Homo sapiens: one gene and its partners. The protein of the gene in region 1 purifies or fractionates together with the protein of each later gene. This does not show direct contact. Each region holds a gene or a part of one and is shown in the gene's direction. Other genes may lie near its edges. The genes, in order: EXOC7, EXOC6B and EXOC6.

Region 1 (9,607 bases):
GGGCCAAGGGGAGAAGCCGCTGCTCCTCGGAAAGCAGGCAGAGAGGGAAGGTGGCTCCCTTGAGGGCAGGGAGCCCTGACGTCCGCCTCCTGCAACAATTCAGAGCTCTGATCCCCTCGGAGCCCATCCCTTGGCACATAGGACCAGGCAGTTCTGCCGCCGGTTTTGCCTGCAGGCGCCCCCGCCGTGGCCTCCAGTAATAGGGTCTGGCCTCCTCCTGGGGCAGCTGGCAACCCCTCCTCTCTGGGACTTACCAGCCTCTTAGATTTTGACCCCATGCCAGCCAGCCTCAGAAGCTGCAGCCAACCACCCTCTTAGATGTTCCAGAAGCCCTGACTGGGCTGGTCACTTCCTTCACAGGCCCCGCATTTGCCCACATGGATGACCCCAGTGCCAGCCTCCTTGAGGTGGCACAGCCACCTGCCCACCCTGGGCTGCCCTCTTTCAGGTACAACTCAGAATGCTCAGTCCTGGGGTCAAACCACCTTATCCAGGACGCTGATTCAGGAATCTTCCCTCCTTATCTTTCCATCCGTCACTCTCCTGCCTCTGGTGTCTGATCCCACTGTCTGCGCAGAGCCGAGAATGAAGCCAGAACAAAGGCTGGGCTCAGCTCCTTTTATTCCCCTCGAACCTGGCGGGGCCTGCTGGCTCCCTTGCAGCTTTCTGCCAGAACAGTCAGCCTCTTCCCCATCCTCTGCCAGTGTGGGGTACAGGCCAGGAGCTGGGGGACCCACGCCGCCCCCAGCCAGGAGTGTGGCTGGCCCCAGACCAGCAGCTCAAGAGTTGTGCCATCCCCCAGGGAGAGATGACATGCTGGACGTGGAGACCGATGCCTACATCCACTGCGTCAGTGCCTTCGTCAAGCTGGCGCAGAGCGAGTACCAGCTGCTGGCCGACATCATCCCCGAGCACCACCAGAAGAAGACCTTCGACTCCCTGATACAGGTCCCGCCCCGCCCCGGGGGCTCTGCAGCCAGCCCCAGCAAGAGCTGTCACAACAGACTCTTGCAGCCCTCAACTCCACCCACCACCACCACCTCGTGCCCTGGGGACCGGTCCTGGGTGGACGCTCACCACCTCCCCGTCACCCCTCTTCCTGCACACTGGCCCCCCTACATACTGCAAGGATCCCCCACTAGCCCAGAACTAGCTCCCACCGCCCCACCCTTCCCTGAACTGTCTCCCTGCCCCCTCAGGATGCCCTGGATGGGCTGATGCTTGAAGGGGAGAACATCGTGTCTGCTGCCCGGAAGGCCATTGTGCGACACGACTTCTCCACGGTGCTCACCGTCTTCCCCATCCTGCGACACCTCAAGCAGACCAAGCCTGAGTTTGACCAGGTGCTCCAGGTATGTGGGCGAGGGGCCCTCAAAAACACAGCCAGGAGGCATCGTGCTGCCGGGTGTGGCCGCCCCATCCCTCCCTGGGAGAACCCCATTCTCTGTCCCACACTTCTGCTCTGAAGGTGCATGGAAGCAGCTTAGGAAGGGCCCTGGGTGAGTGAGATGCTCACAGAGCGACTGGAGGTGAGCTGGGGGCTCCCCTGTGCTTCCTCAGGGCACGGCTGCCAGCACAAAGAACAAGCTGCCTGGCCTCATCACATCCATGGAGACCATCGGTGCCAAAGCGCTGGAGGACTTCGCAGACAACATCAAGGTCCCTGCTGTCCTCCCCTTTCTCCCTCCCTCCCGGCCCAGCACCACAGTGACCTGGCCCTGGGGGACTCTCAGAGCAGGCCTCCAAGAGGGTGCGTTGTCCCGGGGCAGCCAGCTGCGCCACTGGCCTGTCAGCACCCATGTGCCTTCCTTTCCTTCCTGGGGCCTCCAAGCCCTCTGAAGTGGGAAGGGCCTCTCCCCCTTGGTCCAGCCTGGCTCAGCCTTTGTGCCTGAGAGGTGTCCTAGCACCCGTCTGCCAGGAGGCGGCACCATGAGCAGGTGCACTGGGGCATGGGGTGGGCTGGGGGCTGCTTCAGGGAACCAGAGGCTGTTTTTCCACAGAATGACCCGGACAAGGAGTACAACATGCCGAAGGACGGCACCGTACACGAGCTCACCAGCAATGTGGGTGCTGCCTGAGGACACCAGGGAGAGGGGAGGAAGGAGGGCCCAGGCCCAGGCCCAGGGCCAGGCAGAGTACTGGTGGAAGGGACTCAGCCTGGCCCAGAGCCGCTCGCACCTTTGTGAGCAGTCCTGGGTGGCAGGATGGACAGTGACATGTTTAGTGTCTCTAGCAGACAGGGCCTTTCCTGGCAGGCTAGAGTGAAAATGAAGTTTCCAGCCGCGCTCTTCACTGGGCGGATCCCAGCCCTGGGCTGGCCCTGGGCACTCAGAGGGGTCGCTGTGGGAGGCCGTCGGCCGGGCCTGCCACTTGCCCTTCTGCACCGTTTTCTTCCCACCCAGGCCATCCTCTTCCTGCAGCAGCTTTTGGACTTCCAGGAGACGGCAGGCGCCATGCTGGCCTCCCAAGGTACTGGTACCTCCCAGTTGGGCCCCCTGCCCCACTCGCCTCCTTGCCTGGAGACATGGGGTTAGAGGGCAGGTAGCAGTGAGGAGGTATCTCCAGTCTGTGGAGGGGTTGAGGTGTGCTCAGCAGAGGGTCCCTGGGGCTGAGCATCAGGAGAGCAAGGTTTGCCTGCACCTTTCAAGACCAGACACTGGACCTCTGGCCCCTCCCTCAGCCCCTTTGACCGTCCTCGCCCTGGAAGCAGTGTCCTCACTCTGGGAGCGGTGCTGGTTGGTTGGAAGGTGTCCTTTCTGCCCCTGCCCCCCTCCCAAATCCTTCTCTCGTGTCTGCCTGCTCTCCTAATCAGGCTCGCTCAGCTGGCCTTCAGAGGGTAGCAAGTGTCTCAGGGCCCGCTGGGCGTCTTCCTGCTGGCCCTGCCCTGGGACTGGAGCTCAGGGGGTTGGCCTGTAAGCAAGAGCACCTTTCTGGGTCATTCCAAGCACTGAGGTCCCTGGGCCCTCTCCTCCCGTCCCATTTTGGGGGCAAGGAGCCTGTGGGCAGCCTCCAGCCTGCAGTTCTCAGCTCTCTACTTTCCAGGGTGTTCCCTGGTCCTCAGAGGGTCCCGCCTGCTGTGTCTTGCTATCTGTGTTTTGGCTGTCGTGGGGAGAGGTCTGCTTAATTCGGGTTGACATGCCGTTTCTAACCTGTTTTTTGCACTTTGCATCTTTCTCCCTCCTTTGTCTCTCCCTCTGTCCCCTCTGTGTGCACTGCCTTTCACTCCGTAGTTCTTGGGGACACATACAATATTCCTTTAGACCCCCGAGGTAAGCAGTGCGGTTCTGCAGCCCCCTCCTGTCCCTCTGAAGCTTGGTGGGTGAGGTTCCCTGGGGACTGACTCTCAGTACCTACTGGGGAGCCTGAGTCAGAGGGGACATGAGTTTTCTCGGGGTGCTCTCAACTCTCTCTGCTCCCTTCAAGGCCACTCTGTCTCTGAGCTTATCCGCAGCACCTGCCCAGGCTAGAGCCCTGGATACACCCCCTAGGCTCGCCCGGCCTCCCTGCCTTGCTGTCCCCACTCGGCCTTCCCCACTGTGCAGGCCGCAGCTTCGTCTGTTCAGTAGGGTCTGGTAGAGGGGATGTTCGAATGTAGGGGAGAAGGTGGAGAGGCTGTGGGGAGCCCATTCTAAGACTCTGCTGTTGACAAAAGGAAAAAGGGGGCCTTGTAGAAACCACCCAGGGTGGGTGGGGGCAGGAGGGGACAGGGCGCTGGCATCTCACTCTTTTCCTGCCAGCTTTTCTGCTGACATGGGCCAGCTCCATCCCATCATAGAGGGCAGCTCTGGGTTCCAAAAACTCCAGGGCTGGTGCTTCCTGCGGCAGGGGCCACCCTGTGGCTTAGCAGGCAGCCAGCTCTGCCCAAGGAAGCCCAGGGCCTGTCTCAGTGTCCCCTCAGACTGCTGCATGGCCTGGGGGAAGGGCCGTTGAGGGTCTTGGCTGCTGCCACTGCAATAACAGGACTTCTCCTCTCACAGAGACCAGCTCTTCGGCCACCAGCTACAGCTCTGAGTTCAGCAAGCGGCTGCTAAGCACCTATATCTGTGAGTGTTCTCCCGGGCAGACCAGCAGCCCTGCTGCCTGCATGCCCTGCCTTTCCCTTCCTTCTGTCTGTGCTCTCTGGCTATTCCCAGGGCCCTCTCCTAAGTGCCATCTGATCTTTGGAACCACAACCTGACCTCTAGTTCAGAGGCTGAGGGGAGTTGGGCTAAGGCCTCCTGAGGCAGGACGAGGAGCGATGGATAGGAGCGCGTTCGCGGGTCCTGGGGTGGGGTCGTTTGGGTCAGACTGCCATGGTGGGTGTGGCCCCATTTTTCCCTGTGCAGGTAAAGTGCTGGGCAACCTGCAGTTGAACTTGCTGAGCAAGTCCAAGGTGTACGAGGACCCAGCTCTGAGCGCCATCTTCCTGCACAACAACTACAATTACATCCTCAAGTCCCTGGAGAAGTAAGTGGCCTGCGGGAGTGAGTCTGCGGCTCTCACCTTCCCCTCGGCTGTGCAGCTGTGCCAGCCCCTGCCCCCCTGGGCTCCTTCTCTTGTGGACGAGAGGGGAGGGGGTGCTTCAGTCTCCTCCACCCCAGGACCCGGAAGGTGGGATGCCATAGAGCTTGTGGAGTTTGGGGTGCAATGGGAGGCCCTCCCGGCATTGCCGCAGCCTTTGGGCCTGAGGAGCCAATCCTGTCCTCCTCTCCTCTGTCCCCTACCCCGACCCAGGTCTGAACTGATCCAGCTGGTGGCAGTGACACAGAAGACTGCTGAGCGCTCCTACCGGGAGCACATTGAGCAGCAGATCCAGACCTACCAGCGCAGGTGAGAGGCTGGGCCCGCCCTGCTCCTGCATGGGCCCCTGTGCCACCACGCACTCTTCCTTCTCAGCACCTCAGGACACAGAGTCGGTCACGGGGAACTCCTGTCCTCTGGACCCTAATCCTCCACTTGGTTTCTAATCAAACTCACGGGGTGGAGAGAGAAGCCCCCTCCTCTACCACTACCTGCTCCTAGGGGCCCACTATGGCCACTTTAGAGGGGAGTCTGCCAAGTGTCAAGGCTAAGAATGATTGAAGAGCTGGCTCTCAGAGACGTGGGTAATGTTTACCTAGGAGAAGAGCAAGGTCGCGAGAGCACTTGAACGTGGCTGAGCCTTGCTCTGTGAGGATCCCGCTGCTTCTCTGGTCCTCTTTCTTCCTGGCTTTGTTTCTTCCCTTTGAATGTGTCTACCTCTTCCTTCTCATTTATCTGCCCTCCACTCCTTTCTTTCTCATCTGTTTCTCCATCTTAGTTTGCCACGATATTGATGTGAAGTATAGTTGACAGTATTTGTCCAATTTATTGAACACTCAAGTGTTTCCTAATGTTATCTCAAAAAGTGACCAGTTTAAAGATTTTCTCTTCCCAGGAAGAAAACCTGTTGTTTGCTTAGTTGTGACCCACATCCCTTCCTACCACCACCCACCAAGTAGATCCAGAGATTTAGCAAACGAAACAAGCCAGGCCACTGAGGCAGGCCACCCTCTGCCCTCATGCTTCTCTTTCTGTCTGGCAGCTGGTTAAAGGTGACTGATTACATCGCAGAGAAGAATCTACCTGTGTTCCAGCCGGGAGTCAAGGTGGGCTCAAGACCTGGGCTGGGAAGGGGTGTCTGGCAGACGGGATACTTTTTGTCGTGTCTCTGGGAAAAAGTGGACAAGCATCCCTCTGGGATCAGAGAGCAAAGGATGCATGTGGCCATCAGGACACAGGAGACAGGCCCAGACCAAGGGTGTTTGGGGAAGAGTGGGGGAAGGCTGCTCTGCTCTGAAGTGAGCTTTCTCTGCTATCTCTCCTGGCTTCCCAGCTCCGGGACAAGGAGCGGCAGATTATCAAGGAGCGTTTTAAGGTGAGTCGGGGTCCTCTCCCCTCCACTGCTTGCTGCTGCTGTTGAGGCAACACAGACCCAAAATGTTTGTCTCTGGGTGCCTTCCTTTTTCACCTTTTTGGTGGCCAGGGCTTCAATGATGGCCTCGAAGAACTGTGCAAAATCCAGAAGGCCTGGGCTATTCCAGACACAGAGCAGAGGGACAGGATTCGCCAGGCCCAGAAGACCATTGTCAAGGAGACCTACGGGGCCTTTCTACAGAAGTGAGGCCTCCATTCCCCTCCCAGCCTGTGCTGCCCACAGCCCCAGTGGGCCTCTTCAAGCTCCTCTTCCTCAAGGGAAAAAGGAGAAGGGTGGTGGATTTAGGCAGCAGATCCAGCGACCTGGGCTTTGGGGCGGGGCCAGACAGGGAATCGCTCAGGGCCACCCCTTCCAAGACTATCAGGAGTGCCTTAGGCTGAGGGTGGAGCTGGGGAGGGGTCGGCCCTCCCTGTCCCCTGACCACAGTGCCTCCTCAGGTTTGGCAGCGTGCCCTTCACCAAGAACCCGGAGAAGTACATCAAGTACGGGGTGGAGCAGGTGGGCGACATGATCGATCGCCTTTTCGACACCTCTGCCTGAGCCTGCTGCTAGCCCTGCCTGGTTCCACCAGACTGGCGTGTCATTGGACAGATAAACCAGTGTTAGCTTGCCTCTGGGCTGGGTGAGCTTGAAGTCCTCTGGGACAGAGACCTGTCTCCACGCCTCCGGGAGCTGTGTCCCTGAGCCCCCTAGTCCTGGCTCCTGCTTTTTCCCCACAGCCCGTGTTCCCAGCCGAACCAGCACTCTCCCGGAAGCCTGGGGTCCCTCCACACCTTGGCTTTTATGACCCTGATGGCTTCTGAAACAGGAAAAGAGAGAAGGAAGACAGAGGCCTGTGCCCACTGCTGCTCCATGTGTACCAAGAGCAGCAGGGCAGAAGGGCCCTCCCTCCAGCCTAGGTCAGAGGTGGGGACAGAGAACTCCCCTACAGCCCAGAGATGTGGCAGGGCTCAGAGAAGCAGCCAGAGCTCCTGGAGGAAAGGCAGTCGGGACTGACCCCCTCTCTTAAAACACATTCCCGCCCGCCCACAGGCCTGAGGTCTGGGACCTTTCCCTCCCAGGAGTCCCCTAGGTGGCTGGGGGAGGCAGGCTCACTGGCCATTTTCCCTAGAGTCCAGCACACTGCAGGAGGCGTTCGGAGGAGGAGTTCCGCCCCACCCTCTACAGCCTTCCTCAGGCCCCTGTCTCTGGCCCCCAGCCTCAGTGCCTCTTGGCCCAGGGCCAGGCAGTCGTGGTTGCAGAAGGAGCAATTAGGCTGCCTGCCTGTGGGCTGGGAGACAGGGACAATGGGGAAAAGTTAAGGAGCAAAATGGGGGTTGGAAGCAAAAAATAGGGCCCCACCTATTTAGGACGAGATTGAAGACTGACCCTTGAGGCACACTTGCACTGGAGATGGGTTTATTTCACGCTCTGTGCTTGTGTGCTAGCGGAGGGAGAGCTCAGGGTGGCTTAATCCAGAGGCCCTGTCATGGCCCGCCCCCAGCCATGGGAAAGCAAACTTCATCCTAAGGTGTGCAGCCCAGGCCCTGCCCCTTTACAGTCTAGGCCGCCTGCCATGGGGTGCAGCCTCTCCAGGGGCTGCGTCAGACTTGCACGCTGCCCACATCCAGATTCCTGCAAAGACGAATTGGGTGCACAGCACCCCAACCACATACACGAGGAAGAAGATGCGGTCAGCAGTCTCAGGCCAGCTTCTCTGTGACCCCTTTACTCCTCTGGAGGGCTCTGTGGGGAGAGATACAGGGAAAGGAGCTGTTCTTCAAGGTCCCCTCAACATGAGCGGAAGAGCGAACCCCAGGGGTCATCAGCCTGTATCGCTTCCTTTCTTAGATTCTCAGCTGATGAAAATTTGGGTCTGGCCCATTTCAGGCCATCTTCAGTTGAAGAAACACCCTCTTAGGCTGTGCAAGGCATGGGTTATCAGGGGATTGAGGTCACCTGGGACTTCAGGGAGGCTCAGCTTGCTCCCTGCCCCAGACCTGTTTCTTCTAAGGGAGGAGGACATGGTGGAGACCAGGGACAGGAGAGCCAGCAGGGTGGATGCAAGGGGCCTCTACCCACACCTGGACCTCCGTGCCCTCACCCCAGCCCTAGGTGTGCACCTAGGCCTCATTCCTTACCCCCCAGCCCCTGCCCACCTTCAGCAGGATGAGGCCCTGGGTTGCCGTGCTCTCGCTGTTCCCCTCTCGGGGCTGGGCTGGGGCCGCTCTTGGCCCCAAGGTTGCCCCGGGCCAGCAGCCCAGCCAGCAGCACAGTCTCTATGGTGCTGAGGAAGAGCAGCAGCAGCAGGATGGTGAAGTAGTAAACTGGGGGAGGCAGGGCACAGGGAGATGCTCAGGGGCCAGTCCCTGTGTCTCTGGTGCCCAGCGAGCTGAGCACCAGTGGGTGACCGGGGAGAAACAGGGCAGACTGGGTAAGGGAGCAGGGCTTACTGAGCAGTGGGTTGCAGGAGGAGGAGCTGGGCAGGGCCTGCACCAGGGAGGAGTGGAGGACGAGGTAACTCAGCAGCAATGTCACCTTGTAGCCTATGCGCTCAATGGCCCGGAGGGGCAGCAACCCCCCGCACACGTCAGCCAACAGCAGTGCCTCTGCAGGCACCAAGAGAGCGATGATGGACTTGAGCGCCGTGTTCTTCAGCCTCAGCTGGAAGGGGAAAAGTCAGGGCCTTCCCGGCGGGGGGGAAGGAGGTGGGCATCGGGGGCATGGGGCCTGGCCTCTGGCCGTGCATCCTCACTCCCACCCGCCTCCAGCAGCCCTCTGTCGGCCTCCTCCCGACTTGACTCACCGTCACCTGGAAGCAGGGCACCAGCTGCTGGGGTGGGACTTGGGTCTTCAGATCATAAACTACGTATTCCCTCTTGACACTCACAATCTCGTTCACCACGTGGGCCTGGAACTCTAACTCCATCGCTGAGGGGTGGGAATGAGAACTATGAACCAGGAAGGAGAGATCCCAGCTGCCAAGTCTGGGGGTAGCAGACTGGAGCCCAGGGGTGATGGAGACTTTTGATGGCTTTTGGCAGGGACAGACTTGGACACAAAACCGATCCATAGAAGGGCTTCCCAAACCTTGTTTTGCAACATCCCAAATTGTCTCCAGTTGAAGGAAGGCCTTTATCAGATTCATAGATGAGCTTTCATTGTAAAAATAAATGTACTTTGCACCACTTCATGATGGAGGGAGAAGTGGTCACAGGCTCGTCAGTCTATCATCTCACAGCTGAAGCAGGATCCCCAGGGCTACCGCTGTGGTCTCTCATGGAGGGAAGGGTAGGACTTCTCTGCCAAGTTAGATGTCACCTGATGGGTTTATACAGGGTGGCTGCACCTTCAGGTGGTTTCCAGGAGTGAGGCCATGGCAACCTGAGCCTCTGGCCTTGCTGCAAGGGGCCGAGCCACTGCAGTCGCCATGGCTGTGGAGGGCAGTTGCTCTGGGGAGGACAGAAGACTGATGTGCTCGGACCTCTGGGATTGCAGAGCTGCTGCGAATGTTTGAGTCTGTCACCCTAGAGAGGGGCCCTGAGGCTACCGCTGAGCACAGAGATGGGCTGCCACTCGAGTGGGGGGCGCAGTGGGAGAGCAGGTGCTGCCCGCCTAAGCCTGGGGTAGACTGCTCTGAACACAGACCTGGGAGTTCGCCTTCTGTCTGCCTTTGCCCCTTCCCCTTGCCCC
Region 2 (10,471 bases), on another chromosome or scaffold:
TCTGAGTTTGTGAGTTATGCAAAATTTATCAGGCTGAGAGAGACCTGAGTATGGGGCATTAGTCCTACCCCCACACCCATGCTTGGGGCAATTGTTAAAATATATTTTGTTCCTGACTAGCTGCCTCACCCATTATCTTCATATTCCTGGAGTTTGTGACACAAAGAACAATTTATAGCCAATCAATAGCTTATATTATTTTAATGTAAATTCTTGGTAAACTTAGAAACTGCCTCTTGTTTTTTCCTTTAAAAACTCAATTGCAGCTGGGGGAGGTGGCTCACACCTGTAATCCCAGCAATTTGGGAGGCTGAGGCGGGTGGATCACCTGAGGTCAGGAGTTCAAGACTTACCTGGCTAACATGGTGAAATCCCTGTCTCTATTAAAAATACAAAAATTAGCCTGGCATGGTGGTGGGAGCCTGTAATCCTAGCCACTTGAAAGGCCAAGGCAGGAGAATCGCTTGAACCTAGGAGGCGGAGGTTGCAGTGAGCCAAGATCACGCCACTGCACTCCAGCCTGGGCAACAGAGTGAGACTCCATCTCAAAAAACAAACAAATAAACAAACAAACAAAAAACCCCACCCATTTGTAACTGGCCAGGTGTGGTGGCTCATGCCTGTAATCCCAGCACTTTGGGAAACTGAGGCAGACAGATCACCTGAGGTCAGGAGTTGGAGACCAGCCTGGCCAACATGGCAAAACCCTGTCTCTACTAAAAATATAAAAATTAGCTGTGCATGGTGGCAGGTGTCTGTAATCCCAGCTACTTGGGAGGCTGAGGCAGGAGAATCACTTGAACCTGGAAGACGCAGATTGCAGTGAGGCAAGATCATGCCACTGCACTGCATCCTGGGCAACAGGGCGAGACTCCATCTCAAACCATCCCCTCCCGCCAAAAAACCCCCAAAAAACCATTTGTAACTGCCACTAATTGAAGTGTGTATTATTCAGGGCAACTTGAATCTATGCTCCCAGGTGGCCCTCTTCAACCCTTGTGCTTGAATAAACTCTTTTTAAATTAGATTCTGAACTTTTGGATTTTTTAGGTTGACATTTGATGAGAAAAAAATAGATTCCCAGCCAGGGCCACTGTCTGTGCGGAATTTGCACATTCTCTCTATGTCTGCCTGCATTTTCTCCTGGTACTTTGGTTTTCCTCCCGGTACTTCAGTTTTCCTCCCACATCCCAAAGATGTTCACGTTAGGTTCTTGGCATCTCTAAATTGTTTCTGAGTGAGTGTGGGTATGTGTGTGAGTACACCCTGCCATGCAATGGCATTCTGTCCAGGGTTGGTGCCTATCTTGTGTCCTGAGCTGTTGGGATAGGCTCTGGCCCCCTGCAACCCTGAATTGGAATAAGCAAGTTGGAAAATGAATGAATACAACTTAATGTACAAGAAGACATCCTAAAGTATCTGATAATTGTTTGGTGCACAACAATAAATGATGCTGTACTAAAGCACTCAGTGATTGTTTTTGAACCTTGGGTAGGAGGTACTCCTTATAATTTTTGTCTTGTAAACATTTATTCCTTGATTTAACCCACCACCACTACAATTGCTGTCACTCACTGGTTCACCAAAAAGTGGGTAAATCATTATCTTATTTGTTTTTATTAAACTTTTAAAAATGTATATCTAGCTCTTATTTCAATATTTAGCAATGGAAGTGTTTTGGTATTTATTTAGAAGTTCGATGATGTTTTTGAGATCAGAAATAGGCTGTAGAAACTTAACTCTTGTCTATATCAATGAACTGTGGTAAAATTGGTTTCATTATACACAGTTTCGCTTAAAGTTTCAGTTTCCAAGAACCTAATGGTGATTTTAAGTTAGGACTTACTATATTAAGGTAGAAGGTGAAGCCATGAATGGATTGTCCATGTGGCACCAGGAACCTGGCTGGGATACTTGGGATCGATCAGTAAAGTCAGAGTGGTCAGCACACACAGTCCCAATGTTGAAATTCCTTGGGATCATGATAAGGAATGGGGTGGAGAGAAAAACTGTTGAATAAGGAAATTTCCCTGACCCCTTTGTGGGTGGGAACTGGAGTGCATGGGCACTGGCAGGGGTGAACTCCACTCACTTGCTGCTCTACCTATTGTGGGAGGGAGAGGGCAGGTGACTGTGTGCAGGAGCTGGGACGAGCACCTTTGGGCACCAGCAAGACCCAACTCCGTATTGGTCCTGTGGCAGTATCTAGGGGAGGGAGCCCGTGACCCCTGAAGCCCCAGAGGAAGTGTTACAGTGTCCTTTTAGCTTTGTCATCCATGGACAGCTTAAATGTTAGCAGCTCAGTGGAGGGTCAGTGTGACAGACTTTTGCACCTGCACCCGGCATCCAGGAGGAATGAGGTCACACAGAGTTGAAGATGGTAAATGTGGGAGATTTTATTGCTGAGGAAGATGGCTCTCAGTGGGAAGGGGAGCTGTAAAGGGGACAGAGCAGGAAGGTAATTTTCCTTCAGAGCTACTCCATCAAGCTGTCCCTTTGAAGTCAAGCCCCTTATCTCCAATGTTCAACCATAGTCTCTGATGTTCAGCTGCTTCTCCTCTCTGCCAGTAGAGCCTGGGGTTTTTATGGGCACAGGATGGGGAGCGGGGCAGGCCATGGGTGGCTTTGGAAAAGGCAACATTCGAGCAAGAAAACAGGGATATATGTTCTCACTTTGGTCTGTGGTTCCAGGCTTGAGGGTGGGGCCCTTGCTGGGGACCTGTGCTCCTCTGCCCAGAATTTCCCTACCTCCTGTCCCTAAAACTGTGAGCCAAGAAGTAACATTTCGGAGAAATATGGACATTAGTAGATAATTATGGCATAATCTGATGCCCTAGACTTCAAAGGAGAGTTAGGGAATCAGGGTGTTGAAACAACAGCCTAGATGTGGCAGTGGAGAGCAGTGAGAATGCTGATGCTGCCTATCTACTCATGCAGAAGAGAAAACCAGTTCATTCTAGGTAAGTGGAGGGATGTGGTTTTGTGAAGAGGTCTCCAAGGTGTTTTGGAAGGGTTCTGAGAAATGATACAATCCATTATATTAATGTAGAAGCAGAGATAGAGTGGCAGAATGGTCACATAATAAACTCGTGGCCGTGAAGGGCCTGGGTGGGGCAGCATGGGCTACTGGTTAGGAAATAGGCCTTTGAATCAGATTGACCTGGTTCGAATACCAGCTTCATTACTTAATGGATGTGAGATGTGGGGTGTTGCCTAATATTTCAGCTTTCTTATCTGTAAAATGGGACACGTGATTTTTACTGCAAAGGATTGTTGTAAGGATTTAATGAGGTTGATATATGTGAAGTACTTACTTTGTATATTGTGCTTGGCACACAGAAAGTGCTCAGTGCATTTTTTGGTTTGTTTTTGAGATGGAGTCTCACTCTGTCACCTAGGCGGGAGTGCAGTGGCGTGATCTTGGCTCACTGCAACCTGCTTCTCCCAGGTTCAAGTGATTCTCCTGCCTCAGCCTCCTGAGTAGCTAGGATTACAGGCACCTGCCACCATGCACAGCTAATTTTTATATTTTTAGTAGAGACAGGGTTTCACCATGTTGGCCAGGCTGGTCTCAAACTCTTGACCTCAAGTGATCCACCTGCCTCGGCCTCCCAAAGTGCTGGGATTATAGGCATGAGCCACTGTGCCCAGCCTGCTCAAAACATTTTAACCACTAATGCTGGAACTGAATCAATGCGACTCACATTCTTTCTATTTGGAGGACATAAACATTAGACAGGCCATCTTGCCATCTTCACTGGAGGTTTCCAATACTGCTTACTGCAGACTTGTTCCTGTTGCTGAGATGTGTGGCCTCTGGCCTCTGTGGAGGCTCACAAAAACTGCTGACAGTAGCAGAAGCTAGTTTAACTACTGCTGAATGTATGTCGTCTATGCAGCAGCCTGGATGGGTGAAAAACTTGCTGAGTGAGATGCTAAAATGGGTGTCTGAAGGGACCCTCGGTCATGTATTTCAAGAGATCTTTAGAAATACAAAAGGCTCCATACTCTCCCTACCCCTCCTACATCTGTTTGGAATTGTTTAAACATGAGTAATGAAACAAAACGAGGACAGGCAGAGATTATCTAGAGACAGACAGGTTTATCAACTTGCTCTCTTCTTGGCAAATCAGGACTTGTAACCCATTCCCCTTACTACTGGTTTGTTTATTTTTAAAATGCATTCTTAGGTCATGACTACTATTTTTATTAAAAAAGCAGTGCATGCACAAGGAAAATAATTCCAAGAGTGCAAATGATAATTACAAATTACCTTCTTACTACTTCAAACTCCTTCTTTCCAATTTTTTTTTTCCTGGATGCCATTACTGTTAACAGTTTTTTGGGCATTTTTTCAGACAGATTCTATCTATGTAATATTATATATATGTATATGTGTGTGTGTATATATATCAAAGCGTATATATGAATATTTATTCTTTTAAAAAACAAATGAGGACAGAGTCTACATATTGTTTCATGCCTTGCATTTTTCCACTCAACAACTACAACTTGGAGACAGTTTCATGTATGACCATAGAGTCTTTTGTCTTTCTTTTTAATGATTGCATAATAGTCTATAGTATGGTTGTAGCACAAATTATTTAGCCTAAACTTCCAGTTTGGTTCTTCTCTCATGCCTTTTTTTTTTTGTCAGTGGAAACTCTCTTCTACTAGTCACTCTGGTACTAAACCTTGGAGTAATATCTAACCTTTTTGGTATCTAGTAAATCCTGTCAATTCTCTCTTTTTGATGTTTTTCCTACTTGTTCATTCTTTTTCATTCTCATTGCTGCTTCCCTGGTTTAGGCCTTCTCATCTCCTACAGTGTTGCCTTATCTCCAAATTCTCTGTCTCTGCACATCTTGCACACTTGCCCTTCACCAAATTTCCTAACGCCCACATTTTGATTGTGTCACTCCTCTTAAAAACCTGCACCTCTAATCCCAGCACTTTGGGAGGCCGAGGCGGGCGGATCATGAGGTCAGGAGATCGAGACCATTCTGGCTAACACAGTGAAACCCCGTCTCTACTAAAAATACGAAACATTAGCTGGGCGTGGTAGTCCCAGGGCGTGGGCCCGTAGTCCCAGCTACTTGGGAGGCTGAAGTAGGAGAATGGCGTGAACCCGGGAGGTGGAGCTCACGGTGAACTGAGATCCCGCCACTGCACTCCAGCCTGGGCGACAGAGCGAGACTCAGTCTAAAAAAAAAAAAAAAAAAAATTAGCCGGGCGTGGCGGCGGGCGCCTGTAGTCTCAGCTACTCAGGAGGCTGAGGCAGGAGACTGGCATGCACCCGGGAGGCGGAGCTTGCAGTGAGCCGAGATCGCCCCACTGCACTCCAGCCTGGGCGACAGAGCAAGACACTGTCTCAAAAACAAACAAACAAACAAACCCCCAAAAAACCTTCAGTGCCTTCCCATTCATTGTGTTACGTAAAAACTCAAGCAATGATTAATAAATCCGATTTTTAAATTGTAACTGATGAGTTCATGAAATGCAGATGCCTGGATCAGAATCTCCAGATGTATGACTGTCAGTCAGTCTGTATTAAAAAAAAATGTTTCCAGGTGCTTCTGTTGCAGTTGGTTGTTGGATCAGTGGAACCATTAGAACAAAGTACACATTTATCAGCCCAGTATTTAAGGCTCCTCGTAATTTCTCTCCAGCGAACCTTTCCAGACCCATCCCTTACTACTACGTCTTTACACGTCAGTGCAAATGAAATTCTTTTTGGCTGTCTGGATTCTCCTCACACCTTCCAGTTATGCCTTTTAACCTCCGAAACCCAGTGTCTTTATGAAGCCTTGGCAACCAGAAGAGATCTCTGAACTCCATTATCGGAACTGGCTTACAGCTCACAGTTTTGAATTCTCCAGCTCCCCGTGTCTCCCCCACTAGACTGTAAGGCCTCTGTCAGACATTAAGTTAGACTTTATTATTCGCGCCGACGGAGCCTTGGCACTTTGTGGCAAAGGTGGTAAACAAGAATTTGTAGGTTTAGTGCCACTGCCTGACTTGATCATCACTGTTTACGCACTGTCGTTAACTGTTTTTGCTTACAGTGGGCTTCAACTAGTATTTGCGGATTCCATGTATGAATGAATGGAATCCAACCTAGCATTTCCCAGAGAACTACAAATCCCAGCGGACATTACGCAGAACGCCGACGGACGCGGTGACGCAAGGGGGCGTGTCGAGCCTGAGGGAGGGGTCGGCCTGCGGGTAGCCAGAGGCTGGGGCGGCTGTGGAGCCTGTGGTGGGAGCGGCATTGTGGGGCAGGGAAAAGGTGAGCCGAGCCGACGGAGGGGACGCGCTGCGGGGCGCCCCCAGTCTATGGAGCGGGGTAAGATGGCGGAGGCGGAGAGCCTGGAGACAGCGGCAGAGCACGAGCGGATCCTGCGAGAGATCGAGAGCACTGACACGGCCTGCATCGGGCCCACGCTCAGGTACCCCGGGTGCCGGGACCACAGAGGGGCGGGAACGGGCGGGACGGGGCAGGCTCCTCTGGGTCGGGCCTCCGGCCGGCTGTCCCCAGGTCCGGCGCCGGCCCCTCCCTTCGGAGAGACCCTGCATACCGGGCGAGGCGGGTCTCCCTTCGCAGCCCCGACGCGGGGTCCCTTCCCGGCGCCCTACAGCCCAGTGACTCAGGACCCTCCCGCTGCCTCCCTCGGGGCAGGAGCAGCCTTCGTTCTCCCTCCGAGGCTGGTCCGGCGCTGGGGAACGAGAGGGCGCCCGACAGATGGTGGTGGCTCCCGGCAGATCTTCCCCCTGGGGACATCACCCTTCTCCCTCCGTCTCTAACTACGTCCTGCCCTAGACAGGAGTCCTGCTCTTCAGACAACACAGAATTTCACTCCATGGTCTAGTGCTCGAAATCAAAGTCTTGCCTCAGAATCACAGCCACTTCTCAGAAACGAGTCCCTGGAAATCCTAGGCCTGGATGGAAGTTTCCCCAACCCGCGCCCCTCTCCTGGGAGCCGCTGCTCCTTTATCCCTGCCTCCCTGTTACGAGGACGACCCTCGCCCACGGTGCAGCCTCCTCATCGCTGGGGAAAACTGACCCTGCTGCCGCCCCCCAGTTATCATTTTTTTTTGCACGCACATCTCCATTTTATTTGGAGATGTCAAAAGAAATCCCTACTTACCTCAACTTATTTAACAAATTTAGGTAGCACTTGTTACATAAAGTCCAAGACGTTGTATAAAGTGATTTACAAATGCAACTTATTTAAGCTACAAAACAACCGTATTAGGTAGGTTCTATTACTCTCCTTTTACAGACAGGGCACAGATAGGTTAAGTGACTTGCCCAAGGTCACAGAGAAAATAAAGTGGGGGACTCAGATTCCTACTCGGATAGCCTGGACCCAGACACTTAACCACTGTTTTGCCTCAGCTGGGGATTATCGGCTACCTGTACTTACTGTTGGTAACTACTCACTAAGCCCAGTTTTGAACTACTTTCCCCCTTCCCCTCATGTTACTGGTGTCCTAGAACCAACTCATCCTTATCCCTTACTGTTATGCATTCTGATCATGCAGCCAATACATAGATAACTATCCTACCCTCCTTGCACAGTCTTGGGTCACTGCCCCTCCCATCAGAAAAGTTATTACTCACTGCTTGCGTTTTCTTGGGGTAAGTTGACTCAGGAAAGACTAATTGGAGGGCAGGCTGGAAATTACTCCTCCTCTCCACTTGCACAGCTTCCTTCTCCAGGACACATTGTTAGCACATTTCTGCCAGTACCACCCCTGGTCATAACTATCCTTAGTAGTTTGCCTTTTGTCTCTTTATTTATTAAAAGCAATGGCAAAAACCGCAATTACTTTTGCACCAACCTAATATTCATTTATTGAGAGAGGGTCCCCTTTTGTCTCCTAGGCTGCAGTGCAGTGATGTGATCGTAGCTCACTGCAGCCTTGACTTCCTGAGTTAAGATCCTCCCACCTAAGCCTCCTGAGTAGCTGGGACTACAGCTGTGCACCACCACCACACCTGGCTAAGTTTTAAACTTTTTGTAGAGATGGGATTTTGCCATGTTGCCCAGGCTGGTCTCAAACTTTTGGGGTCAAATGATCCTCCCACCCCAGCCTCCCAAAGTGTTGGGATTACAGGCATGAGCCACCGTGCCTGGCCCCTTTGTCCCTTAAAGTGACTTTTAGCTCCCTTTTTTGGACCAGTTCTTCCACACAGTTGCCTGTCTCTCCACCAACCCCCATTGCCTTATGATCAGGACCATTGTGCTTTTCTCAATTCCCATTTTCTTCAGCTCTTAAGGGTCAATGGTCCTACACACATTTTCCTGTATACTTCAAATCATCTCTAGATTACTTATAATACCAAATATAATGTAAATACCATGTAAATATATGTTATACTGTATTGTTTAGGTAATAATGACAAGACAAATGTCTGTAGCATGTTTAGTGCGGATGCAACCATCCTTCTTTTTTTTTTTTGGGACAGGGTCTCACTCTGTTGCTCAGGCTAGAGTGCAGTGGCACAATCGTCACTGCTCACTGCAGCCTCGACTTCCTGGTGATTCTCCCACCTCAGCCTCCTGAGTAGTTGGGACTACAGGCGTTCGCCACCATACCTGGCTAATTTCTTATATTTCATATAGAGATGGGGTTTCACCATGTTGCCCAAGCTGGTCTTGAATTCCTGGGTTCAAGCAATCCACCTGCTTTAGCCTCCCAAAGTGCTGGGATTACAGGCTTGAGCCACTGTGCCTGGCCACTGTCTTTTTTTTTGTTTTTTGTTTTTTTTTTTTTTTTTTTCTTAAAACTTTGATTTGAGAAGTTGGTTGAACCTGCAGATACAGAGGGTCAACTGTATATACATTACGGTTTAAATATAAGTTACCCAGTCTCCCTAAAACTTGTTTCATTGTTGTTACTGAGTTTTTTCACTGAAAAGTGGGGTTTTGTGTAGATAGATGGATTAAGAGGTCTTTTGCCCTAAGGGGACACTGTAAAAAAAAGAAAGTTTGAGACTCATTACCAGTTTTACTTGCTTTTCTTGACTTCCTATATGATTATTATGGGCTCATCATTTTTGATCTCAACTTTTTTTTTTTTTTTTTTTTTAGCAGATTACACTGAGTCTTACTGTCAGACCCAGGGTTCATTCACTTGAATATCCTATAATACAAGGAGTACCCACTGCCTTTGTCTTTAGTCTAGCTGTCCCTACCCATATTCATAGGGGATGATCTCACCTTTTTTCCTTATCCCGTTCAGAGGCAGCAGCATGCACAGACTTGATGTTTCAGATCCCATGCCTTACTTGGGATGTGCCTCTATTGTCATTATCTCCTGTTTTTCATCACTATCATGAAACAGGTTTGATTAAGGCAGTAGCTCTCTTGCCTTAACTACTCTCAGTTGTAAACCTCGAACTTTTCTTCTTCATAGTATGTCTTTCCTCTTTCTTCATCTTTTGAGGTAACATTGTAAAGGCACCAGATTCTTAACTGTTCGTGAGATGGGTTTTCTAGCTGAAGAGAAACTAACGAACACAGAAAGTAAATTGAGAGCAGATATTAGATTAGTATATCCCTAAAATACCTGCTCTTCAAAAAAATCCACTTGGCTGTATTGCCTAACCAGACTCTTTCCTTTGCCAGCTATTATTTGTGTATCATTACTTGCTTTCTTTCTTTGCTATGATACGGATTATTTTTTCCAGTCTTACTCCTTTTTGTTTGAGGAGTCACAGTGGCTTGACTTTTTCATTATATTACTGTTATTACTTTAGTTTTGAGCTGTACATGCAATGTTGGTAGATTCCCATCTATCATAAGGATATACCACCTCTTCTTTTTCATTGTAATTCTGAAAGGCCCAAGCATATCCACACATAAAGAGGGTGTTGCCTAGCAAACTCTTTTGGGAAAGTAGCTATCTCTCTCTTTGTCTTTACCTTAAAAATTATTTTGTTATCTGTGAGTCCTAATTTTGGAAAGAGGCCTGTAAGATGTTAAAGCCTGCCTGTCCTGTTTTTAAAATAATGTTCATTCCTGCTTTGTGTTATAAATACTAAAATTTTGATGACAAATCATTTATGAACAATAGCTCCCTGTTTTCATTTTTCAAATCCCATCCCTATATCTCTACTTTTCCTTTATATCACTTACTCAGTAGAAGTCATTTCTTCACTTGGTACTCTGGGTAATAGCAATTAACATTCAGTCTAATTGTTGTTTAAGATTTTGTTTTCAAACTTAAAATTTAATATTGAAATACATTGCCATTAAAAAACAACTATATTGAGATATAATTCATGTATCATACAATTTACCCATTTAAAGTATACAATTAAATGGTTTTGGGTATGTATATTCGCAGAGTTGTGCAGCAATCACCACAACCTAATTTTAGAAAATTTTCATTACTCAAAAAGAAACCTTGTACCCATTAGTGGTCTCTCCATTCTGTTCCCTCTCTCTCCCTAGGCAATCAC
Region 3 (10,365 bases), on another chromosome or scaffold:
AAAATCGGACAAGGGAGAGGAAAGGGAGAAAGGGCAAAGGGCAGTAAAGGAAGGCTAAGCAGGGAAAGAGAGAGGAATAGAGAGTGCATTGAACAGGATGACGAATAAGAAAACCAACAAGGAGAAGGAAGGTAAGAGTAGGGAGCAGGGACAATTGCTTGTCTTATAAACTGGTGGTGGTGGTGGAGTTGGTGGGGTGGGGGGTGTGTTATTTGAAGGAAAGAGAGAATGGAACTCAGAGAAAATGATATTGTTCTTTAACTGCTCAGTGGACTTTAAAATGTTTAGTTTTGAGGGCTTTCAGGACATTTTTCTGAGGGCAGGGTTGGCAACATAATTTGTGGGGCCCAGGGCAAAATGAAAATGTAGATTCCTTTTTCAAAAATTATTAAGAATTACAAGATGGTGATGACAGGGTATTGAACCAAAGGCAACTGCGTAGGTCACACACCATGAGCCAGCCCTGTCTGAGAGCTTAATACATGAACATGGTACACAGCAAACATTTAATAAAAATAGTTGTTGAATGAACAAAACCCGGGGCTAGTTGCTTTTGAACTCCTCTGAGGACTGGCCCGTATTTTAGAAAAAAACTGATTTTATTTGGCTTCAATTTCAAATTTCCTTCTATTGTTCTCCACCGTGGGGTCCAGATCTTTATGGAACAGCCGATTCCTGCACAGGGTTTTACAGCAGGAATCCTCCCAGACCAGCTGGGCTTTGTTTATTCTCTTGCACTTACAGAGTGTGGCCACTTGGGGTCACCACACCAAAAAGGCAGAAGCTGGAGGAGGGCCCCTGCGACGGTGGACATCTGAAACGAGTGGCTAAAAGCCACTGGGAAGGATTAGTTTATCAGAGCCAATGTATAAAGACTGCCTGTACTTTACATTTTGATACAGTTCTATAATTCTATAACAAGAGCTCTAAAACTCTTTAAGAAACATTTGAATGATGTAAAGTTTTGCGAGGATAATGATAGGGTTCCCAGGGGTGAGGAGGGGAATCTTTTTGTAAATGTGTACCCTACCTCTAAAAGCATGCATTTGGCCGGGCGCGGTGGCTCACGCCTGTAATCCCAGCACTTTGGGAGGCCGAGGCGGCGGATCACAAGGTCAAGAGATCGAGACCATCCTGGCCAACATGGTGAAACTCCATCTCTAGTAAAATACAAAAAATTAGCTGAGTGGGCCGTCGCGGTGGCTCCCGCCTGTAATCCAAGCACTTCGGGAGCCCGAGGTGGGTGGATCACGATGTCAGGAGTTCAAGACCAGCCTGGCCAAGATGGTGAAACCCTGTCTCTACTAAAAATACAAAAATTAGCCGGGCGTGGTGGCTGGCACCTGTAATCCCAGTTACTCGGGAGAGAACTGCTTGAACCTTGGAGGTGGAGGCTGCAGTGAGCCGAGACTGCACCACCGCACTCCAGCCTGGGCGACAGAGCGAGACTCTGTCTCAAAAAAAAAAAAAAAAAAAAAAAAATTAGCTGGGCGTGGTGGCACGTGCCTGTAGTCCCAGCTACACAGAAGGCTGAGGCAGGGGAATCACTTGAACTTGGAGGGCGGAGGTTGCAGTGAGCCGAGATCGCGCCACTGCACTCCAGCCTGGTGACAGAGCAAGACTGTGTCTCAGAAAAAAAAAAAAAGGAAAAAAAAGAAAAACATGCCATTTACAACATTAAGCTTAATACGACAAGTATTTGCATGTGGATCATTCACTTATTAATTGAGCCTCTACTATATGCAAGGCACTGGGCTGGGCAGTGAACAATACAGGCATCGTCCCTGTGCCTGATGTAGGAGCAGTTCCTGGAAATGGAGACAGACTCAGTGATTTGTTCACCACCATGATATGTGCTTCCAAGGATGAGTGAGCACTGCTCCCAAGGACAACGAAAGGTGCTTGCCTTAAAAGCGCAGGATCCAGAGGGTTCACTAAAATGGGTCTGGAACCAAGAATCCAACCCAAAGACATGTTCCTGTTTCCCTCTCTACAAAAGCAGGAAACATATTTCAGTTGGTTTACATCCACCAAACATGCAGAAAACCCTGATACACAATCAGGTTTTTTTTTAATGATTAGGAAAAAGAACATTTATGTGTCTGGTTTTTATTTTTATTTTATCAAAGAGGAGGCTAAAATGCTGGGCTCTCTGGCTTACTAGCAAATGCCTGATAACCCTAGTCGCCAATGCTAATGTTGATTGAGCTCTAGGCTAAACATAATACATATATTATCTTCTTTAATCCTCACATAATTTGGTGAGCTAGGGATTCTTATTGTCCTTAATTCACACTTGAAGAACGTGAGCCTTAGTCAAGTTAAGTAACTCCCTGAGGCCTGACATCTAGTAAGAGATGAGTTGGAATTTGAATTCAAGTAGTTAAATGCCAGACCAGAGCAGTTGCACTCTACAACCTCATTCTGAGGGAGGCGCTTTCCCAAGACAGGTCATTAGTCTGTAGATAAAAGGCGCAAAGTTAAGTTCCTAATGACTAAGAGTTTATTTACAAGTCAAATCCTTACTTTGCCAATTACTTTTATACTGGACACAAAATGCATCTCCTGTCCTGCTGGTCTTCCTGGTGTATCTTTCTTCTTCCAGGAGTCCTGAAAAGAGATTTTGGATTGATCTCTGGAAGTCAATATCCACTGCCAAAAAATAATTCCACATGCATCTGCAATCTGCCTGTCTGTGCCCTGCTACTCCGCAACCTTCTCAGTGCAGACGTTAAATCATTCACTCCTTGGGGCTGGGCGTGGTGGCTCATGCCTGTAATCCCAGCACTTCAGAAGGCCAAGTCAGGGCAATCACTTTAGGGAAGGAGTGTGAGACCAGCCTGGCCAACATGGTGAAAGCCCATCTCTACTATAAATACAAAAATTAGCTGGATGTGGTGACATGTACCTGTAATCCCAGCTACTCAGGAGACTGAGGCAGGAGAATCGCTTGAAAGCGGGAGGCAGAGGTTGCAGTGAGCCAAGATCGCACCACTGCACTCCAGCCTGGGCAACAGAGAGAGACTCCATCTCAAAAAAAAAAAAAAAAAAAAATCATTTATCCCTTGGATAGGCTTCCCCCACCCCACATTGACATATTTGATATATCTATGTCCATGATTAAAATGTACAGTTAGGGCCGGGGACGGTGGCTCACGCCTGTAATCCCAACACTTTAGGAGGCCGAGGCGGGCAGATCACCTGAGGTCGGGAGTTTGAGACCAGCCTGACCAACATGGAGAAACCCAGTCTCTACTAAAAATACAAAATTAGCTGGGCGTGGTGGCACGTGCCTGTAATCCCAGCTACTCCGGAGGCTGAGGCAGGAGAATCACTTGAACCCAGGAGGCGGAGGTTGCAGTGAGCCAAGATCACGCCATTGTTACCCAGCCTGGGTAACAAAAGCGAAACTCTGTCTCGAAAAAACCAACCAAACAAACAAAACAAATGTGCAATTAGTTATTTAGGACATTTAGCTTTGAATTCTTAGCTAAAACCTCCAGGTACTCACGGAACTGTCAGAAGTCTCAGAGGGAACCAGCAAAAACTGTTTCAGAAGGAGAAGTGGTAAATGGACTTCCTTCCATGTTCACTTGAATTTCGGGGAAGATACTGCTGCTTATGTTGAAGTAATCTCTATGGGCAGGTGTTGAAACAGGGCTGGCCTGAGGAGTGCCTAAGCAGGGCTGGTTTCCCAGAGCAGGGGCACTTGGAGCCAGCTTTGGAATAAAAGGTATCAGGACTGGTGAAGAAAAGGGGTAGAGTTCTAGGGAAGGAATGATCAGGAAAGTAATTCCCCAGCTGGAGACATTGGTCAAATAGGAAACTGGCCTGTGCCACATGCCCTGCTCTCCTCATTTTGCTCATTATCATAGTTCACCGCAGCCTCGAACTCCTGGGCTCAAGCAATCCTCCTGCCTCAGCCTCCCAAAGCTCTGGGATTATAGGTGTGAGCCACTGTGCTCGACCTAAGAAGTTCTTGAGAGGGGAAAATAACCTTTTGAAAATTGAAACTGAAACATAAAAAAAAGAAGACAAATTTTATCCCCTCCCACAAAAAGAATGAAAAGCTAGGTCTCTCTGCAGGAAATGGAAGACTGTCTTAGCTCAATGGATGTGTATAGCTGGAATCCATTGCTCTGAAGATTCCAGATTAATAGGAAGGAGGGCATTAGCAATGTTTTATAGGGCCCTTCCTAAGTTTGGTAGGCAGTGGGTCCCACTGATGCTCACATTCTAATCCCTGGAACCTGTGCATATGTTATTTTTACATGACAAAGGGGGTATTGCATATGTGATTAAGGTTAAGGACCCTGAGATGGAAGATTATCCTGGATTAAATGGTTGGGTCCACTCTAATCATATGGGTCCTTAAAAACTGAGCATCTTTTCCAGCCTAAGTCAGAGTCAGAGGAAGATGTGACCACAGAAGAATGGTCAGAGAGATGTAATGCTGCTAGCTTTGAAGATGGAGGAAGGGGGCCACAAGCCAAGGTATGTGGGTGGCCTCTAGAAGCTGGAAAAGGCAAAGAAACAAATTCTCCCGCAGAGTCTCTAGCAAGGAACACAGACATGCTGACACCTTGATTTTTAGCCCAGTGAGACCTGTGACAGACTTCTAACGTACAGAACTGTAAGATAATATGTCTGAGTCATTTTAAGCTACTCAATTTGTGGTGATTTGTTAAAGCAACAATGGAAAACTCATACACCATGGGACAGCAATATGAGGCAGACACTGCCATTGTCATTTACAGTCATTTAACTGACATATAAAAGAACTAGGTTCTTGCCCAATGTCACACAGCTGTCAAGTGATATTAATCCAAGAATTAATGTCTTCGGACACTGGTCTTCAGAGCTCATGCTCTAACTATTGCACAATACCACCTCCCAGGATGTTTGTGGGGAGGAGGCTGGAGGTAGGTTTCAAGTAAAAGCTCACTAAGGGTGAGTGAGTTACACAGCTGGATAAAGAGCTTGGTTGACTCAAAGGGAAGCTTTTCAAAGCCCTGGATTAATGTAGAGCAGAAAGTAGTTGTTCCTCAGGCTAGGTTTCCATTCTGTTCCTGTTTAGTCTTCCTTCCTCCCTGCTTTGATCATGACAAACTGGTTTACTCAGTGTCCCACAAACATGTCATTAAGCACGACTTTTTTCTACACTGATACCTTTGTCCAAGCCTCCCTGCCTCTCTCTCCCACCTCCCTGCTGCTAACCCCCTTTCAAGAGCTCTCACCCCTTCTCAACCCAGCTACTCTGACCTGGGGGCACCTGAGTTCACGGACTTTGGTATGAATTACACATCGCCCTGGGCCTTTTTTTTTTTTTTTTTTTTTGGTATCTCTGCCATCAAGTGTCTTAACTTCTCATCATTTAATTTTTTATGTCGCTTATAATTTATTTCCAAGTTGACTGGCCGCTGTGGACTTCTTGCAGGCGGGGACATGAATCCACCTGGAGCGGTCTTCATGGTCAACTGGGATCTTTATTCGTTCCTAAAATAAATCTTACTATCACATGCAATTTTGCTTTTCGTGAGTGCATGTTTTCCTTTCTCTGACTCCCCACGACCCAGAGTACATCAGGCCCTTGTTAAATGTCCCCGTGGCTCTTATTACAGATTCAGGGTGATGATCTGAGTGTCCACCTTGCTGATTACTACGGTACCCCCGCGTGTGGCACAGGGTGTGGCACACACAGAAGACAAGGAGATATGTTAAAGCCCAAAGGCCAGGCACAAGACGCCCAGGAGGGACTAGTCGCGAGAGAGGGCAGGAGGCCAGCTGGGTACCCGGCCGCCGCCCGTAGCCCCAGCTCACAGCCCCCGCTCACTCCTGCAGGTGCGGGGGCGGGAACCGGGTCGCGCGCCTTCTGCCCGGCGTTCCGCGCGCCCCCGCGCCGCCGGCCCGAGCGCCCCGCCCCCGCCCCGCCCCTTCGCGCTCGCGCCACTTGGAGCTCGCCCCCGTCGTTCCCGCGGCGCCGCGCCTCGCTGGCTCCTCAGCTTCCAGCCAAAATGGCGGAGAACAGCGAGAGTCTGGGCACCGTCCCCGAGCACGAGCGGATCTTGCAGGAGATCGAGAGCACCGACACCGCCTGTGTGGGGCCCACCCTCCGGTAAAGATCTCATCCCACCGGGACTTCGGCCCCCCGCCCCACGCCGGCCGCTCCTCACGAGCCGGGCGGGGCGTCCGCCGCCGGCCGCGCGCGAAGCTCCCCGACAGGTGGTGCGCGCGGGGGCGGGCGGGGGCGCTCGCGGGTGGCGGAACTCTAGCCGGTACCCGGGCGGGACCGAGAAGGCGGCTGCACCTGTCGGCGCGGCCTGCCTCCACCGCTGTAGCTGTCACCCCGCAGCCGGTGGGTGTGGCTGCTGCAGGGTCTCTAACCCCGGGCCCCGCGCTGCGGCCCCGCGTTCTCCTCCTGGCTGCGGCCCCCGGGCCCGAGGACACTTCTGGGGCCTGCCCCCGTCTCGCTCGTGGTGGGGCTGAGGGCTGCTCGGCCGCGGGCATGCCAGGCTAGGGTCGACAGCAGGCACCCGGCGTGACGGAGGTGCCAGGTCGCGCGCGGGTGGAAAGCCTGGCGCGCCGGGCTGCCGCGGGCGTGGGAGAATTGAAATTGAGCGGGAGACGCCGGCCCGCTTTCCCCCTACTCCCCCGCGCGGCCGCAGTGGGCGAGAAGAGAGCGTGGGCTGGAGAAGAGAGCGTGGGCTGGAGGAGAGCAGCTGCTTGCTGCTTGGGAACACGCTAGGGTGACCCTGCGCTCGCGGGATCTAAGCTGCTTTGGAGGCAGAACAGCTTTTACTTATTTACAAACATTTCATTAAAATTGCATTAATTTTTCCGTTTAAATCGAGTTCCTCCCCATTCATTTTAAGAATAGTACTAGGTAATGCATATTCCATGCCAAACTGAGTACCTGCTGTTCCAATAGAATATTATTAGCCAGGCAACGTAATGAGCCATGGGTTAGGTTAGGCACTGTCTTCAAGAATAAGTTCCTTTTACATATAAGGTTTCATCTTTTGGAGTGATAATAATGATAAATGAAGTTATTATTCACTTAGGGAACTTGAGACTGATTATGCTTTATCATTAGTATTCTTCAGAATACACTTCCTAGAATAGAGCGCTGTACAGTTTGTGGACCTGTGAATATAGTGTAAATTGAAGCCAGTTCAAGTTATGTAAATACACCTTGCCCTTAAGAGTCAGGAGGCCTGGGTTCTTGTTTTGCCCTAATTCTGCCTCTGATGAAATGTGCAGTCATGGAAAAAAATTATTTAACCTCTCTGGATCTCGGTTTCCTTATTTGTAGAATGGGGAGGGGAGAGTATTCAGATGCCCAGGAAACTCAGAACATTAGGGACCTTGCCTATTTGTTCACTACTGTATCCCTAACACCAAGCATGTGGTAGGCATGTTATAAATTTTTGTCACATAAGGTTTCTGCTATGATATGATAATGCATAATTAGTGCATTTCCTTAATTTTCCAACATTATTATTTCTTTTAATAAACTGTATACTTGGTAATGAAAGAAGTAAGATTAAAAGGAAGCTTTGTTTTCATCACTGCATCTTGAAACTGAGAGTGCAGTGTGTGATAAAGTTACTAGAGTAGTTTATTTGTGAAAATAGTACTGGTTATGAAGGAGGTGCTTCATCTTAGGAAAATGTGCTAGGTAGTGTCCTTGAAAAAAGATGAAATTAACTTAGAAGAAAAATTTGAAATATATTGAGAGATTTTTGGGACACTCAGGAACAGAATATGTGTATTCATAGTGTTATTCTGTTCTTTTTTGCTGGGCAGTTGTTTCAACTGGCTCATTTTGTTTGAACCCACTCTCTTTTCTTTAGCAATCCCTGGTGACTCATACTTATCCCATATATATGTATATTTGTGTCTCATTTATAAGCAGACGCTTTTTGCACACATATAGAGGGTACTGCTAGCAGTCTTTTCTCTTGAACATTGTTTAAGCTACTACTATTTTTTCCCTTTTTTTTCAGGTTTCACGAAGTGAAGTGTTAATATTGCATTTTTAAAAACCATTTATTATGGAAAAATTTTAAATGTTTAAAAAAGTAAAATAGTGTAATGAACCACCATGAACTGTCATCTAGCTTCAATTCATTCCCTGGCCAGTCTTGTTTGATCTCTTCCCTTATCTACTCCCTATCATCTTGGATTATTTTGAAGGAAATCCAAGACATCAATTTATTCATAAATATTTTAGTATTAAGATTAATTTTTGTTGTTATTTCCTAATTATCTTTTAGCTGGCCTGTAGACTTATCATTTTATTTATATTGTTTTTTCTCAGCGGCGGGATTTTTCAGCCTGATCTTTTCCTGAGAAGCACGTGATAAACTTTCCGCAGGCCCTGACATATAACATGGTTCTTTGACCACAACAGAAGTATATTAGAAATCAGTAGTTAAAAAAAACAAAAAAACAAAAACTATCTGGAAAATTCCCAAATATTTGGTCATTGACTAACACACAAAAAATAAATCAAAAGAGAAATTAGAAAGTATTTTAAACTGAGTAAAATGAAAACACAGCATATCATTTGTGAATGCAGCTAAAGAAATAGTTAGAAGTTTATGGCACCAAACACCTCTACTAGAAAAGAATGGCTTCAGCTCCTAGCCTAAGAAACTAGGAAAAGAGGAGCAAATGAAATTCAGAAGAGTGGAAGAAAGGAGATGGTAAAGATCAGAGTGGTATTCAGTGAGACAGAAATACAGAAAGTCAGTGAAACTCAAAACTGGTTCTTTGAGGAGACTGTAAAATTGATAAACCTTTAGGGGTAGAAAAGGAGACGATACAAATTAAAAATAACAGGGCCAGGCGCGGTGGCTCACGCCTGTAATCCTAGCACTTTGGGAGGCCGAGGCAGGCAGATCACTTGAGGTCAGGAGTTTGAGACCAGCCTGGCCAACATGGTGAAACCCCGTCCCTACTAAAAATACAAAAAAATATTAGCTGGGTGTGGTAGCACACGCTTGTAATCCCAGCTGCTCGAGAGGCTGAGGCAGGAGAATCGCTTGAATCCGGGAGGCGGAGGTTGCAGTGAGCCGAGATTATGCCACTACTCTCTAGCCTGAGCGACGGAGCGAGACTCCATCTTAAAAAAACAAAAACAAAAACAAACAAAAAAAAAACAAAACCAACCAACTAACCAAACAAACAAAAAAACGGGAGTGAGAGAGGTTACGTGACTATAGATTCTACAGACATTAAAAAAAGGTTAAGAAATATTATGAATAGGCTGAGTGCAGTGGCTCATGCCTGTAATCCCAGCACTTTGGGAGGCTGAAGCAGGAGGATTGCTTGAGCTCAGGCATACAAGACCAGCCTGGGTAACATAATGAGACCTTGTCTCTACAAATACAAAAATTAGCTAAGTGTGGTGGTGTGTGCCTGTGGTCCCAGCTACTCGGGAGGCTAACGTGGGAGAATGGCTCAGAGTCTGGGTCGTTAAGGCTGTAGAGAGCTGAGATTGTGCCACTGCACTCCAGCCTAGGCAACAGAGTGAGACCCCCATCTCAAAAAATGTATATATATTATGAACAACTTCATGCTCATACATTTGGCAACTTAGCAGAAATGGACAAATTAGTTGAAAGATACAAAGTATTATCAAAGTTCACTTAAGAAGAAATAGCTGAATAGCCCTGTATCAATTAAAGAAAGGGAATTTTGCTGTTATAAGCCTTCCCCAAAAGGAAACTCTAGGCCCAGATAGTTTTACTGGTGGATTCTACATCTTTAAGGAAGAATTAATGCCAATTCTACAAAGACTTTTCTGGAAAATTGAAGAGGAGGGAATATTTCCCAGCTCATTTTGAGGTCAACATTAACCTGATACCAGAACTAAAGAAAGAAAGACATAACTAGAAAAGGAAACTAAATCAGTATTCCTCATACACACAGATTTTACAAAAAATTTTAGAGAATTAAATCCATATATGTGGATTTAAAAGTATAAAATACATCTATATAAAAAGTATATTCTGTATATGTATATATGTGTGTGTATATATATGTGAAGAATACATCATGATCAAGTGAGGTTTATTTCAAGAAAGATGCTGGCTTAACATTTGAAAAATCAATGTAACATTGTTCACCATATTAAACAAAGAAAAGTTGTATGATCATATATGTGGAGAAAGCATTGACAAAATCGAATATTAATTCCTGATTTTAAAAACCCTCAGAAACTAGTAATGGAAATTCCTCAGCTTAAAACAGGGCATCTATGAAAATCTAGAGCTAAATTGTGCTTAGTGGTAAGAGTCTGAATGCTTTTCCTCTAAAATCAGGAATGAGGTAAGGATATTCATTCTCACCACTTCTATT

Evidence for each region.
Region 2: the proteins of EXOC7 (region 1) and EXOC6B purify together in Homo sapiens (affinity purification with mass spectrometry; 3 studies listed by BioGRID and IntAct, with this or other methods). This does not show direct contact.
Region 3: the proteins of EXOC7 (region 1) and EXOC6 purify together in Homo sapiens (affinity purification with mass spectrometry; 5 studies listed by BioGRID and IntAct, with this or other methods). This does not show direct contact.

The regions. Positions count from the first base shown.
Region 1 is NC_000017.11:76,080,516-76,090,122, reverse strand, and holds the end of EXOC7 (exocyst complex component 7), read left to right. Parts: coding exon of another isoform or gene 1-79; exon of another isoform or gene 80-381; coding exon of another isoform or gene 382-448; intron 449-802; coding exon 803-948; intron 949-1,199; coding exon 1,200-1,352; intron 1,353-1,560; coding exon 1,561-1,659; intron 1,660-2,000; coding exon 2,001-2,063; intron 2,064-2,402; coding exon 2,403-2,469; intron 2,470-3,230; coding exon of another isoform or gene 3,231-3,269; intron 3,270-3,977; coding exon 3,978-4,043; intron 4,044-4,325; coding exon 4,326-4,446; intron 4,447-4,713; coding exon 4,714-4,809; intron 4,810-5,542; coding exon 5,543-5,606; intron 5,607-5,833; coding exon 5,834-5,875; intron 5,876-5,983; coding exon 5,984-6,117; intron 6,118-6,372; coding exon 6,373-6,475; 3' UTR 6,476-7,469; coding exon of another isoform or gene 7,470-7,660; 3' UTR 7,661-8,073; coding exon of another isoform or gene 8,074-8,241; 3' UTR 8,242-8,367; coding exon of another isoform or gene 8,368-8,578; 3' UTR 8,579-8,720; coding exon of another isoform or gene 8,721-8,845; 3' UTR 8,846-9,107; downstream 9,108-9,607. Other genes in the region: ligand-gated cation channel ZACN precursor, read right to left, coding at 7,470-7,660, 8,074-8,241, 8,368-8,578, 8,721-8,845. UniProt on the Homo sapiens protein: Component of the exocyst complex involved in the docking of exocytic vesicles with fusion sites on the plasma membrane.
Region 2 is NC_000002.12:72,821,776-72,832,246, reverse strand, and holds the start of EXOC6B (exocyst complex component 6B), read left to right. Parts: upstream 1-6,213; 5' UTR 6,214-6,336; coding exon 6,337-6,449; intron 6,450-10,471. UniProt on the Homo sapiens protein: Component of the exocyst complex involved in the docking of exocytic vesicles with fusion sites on the plasma membrane.
Region 3 is NC_000010.11:92,842,520-92,852,884, forward strand, and holds the start of EXOC6 (exocyst complex component 6), read left to right. Parts: upstream 1-6,000; 5' UTR 6,001-6,014; coding exon 6,015-6,115; intron 6,116-10,365. UniProt on the Homo sapiens protein: Component of the exocyst complex involved in the docking of exocytic vesicles with fusion sites on the plasma membrane.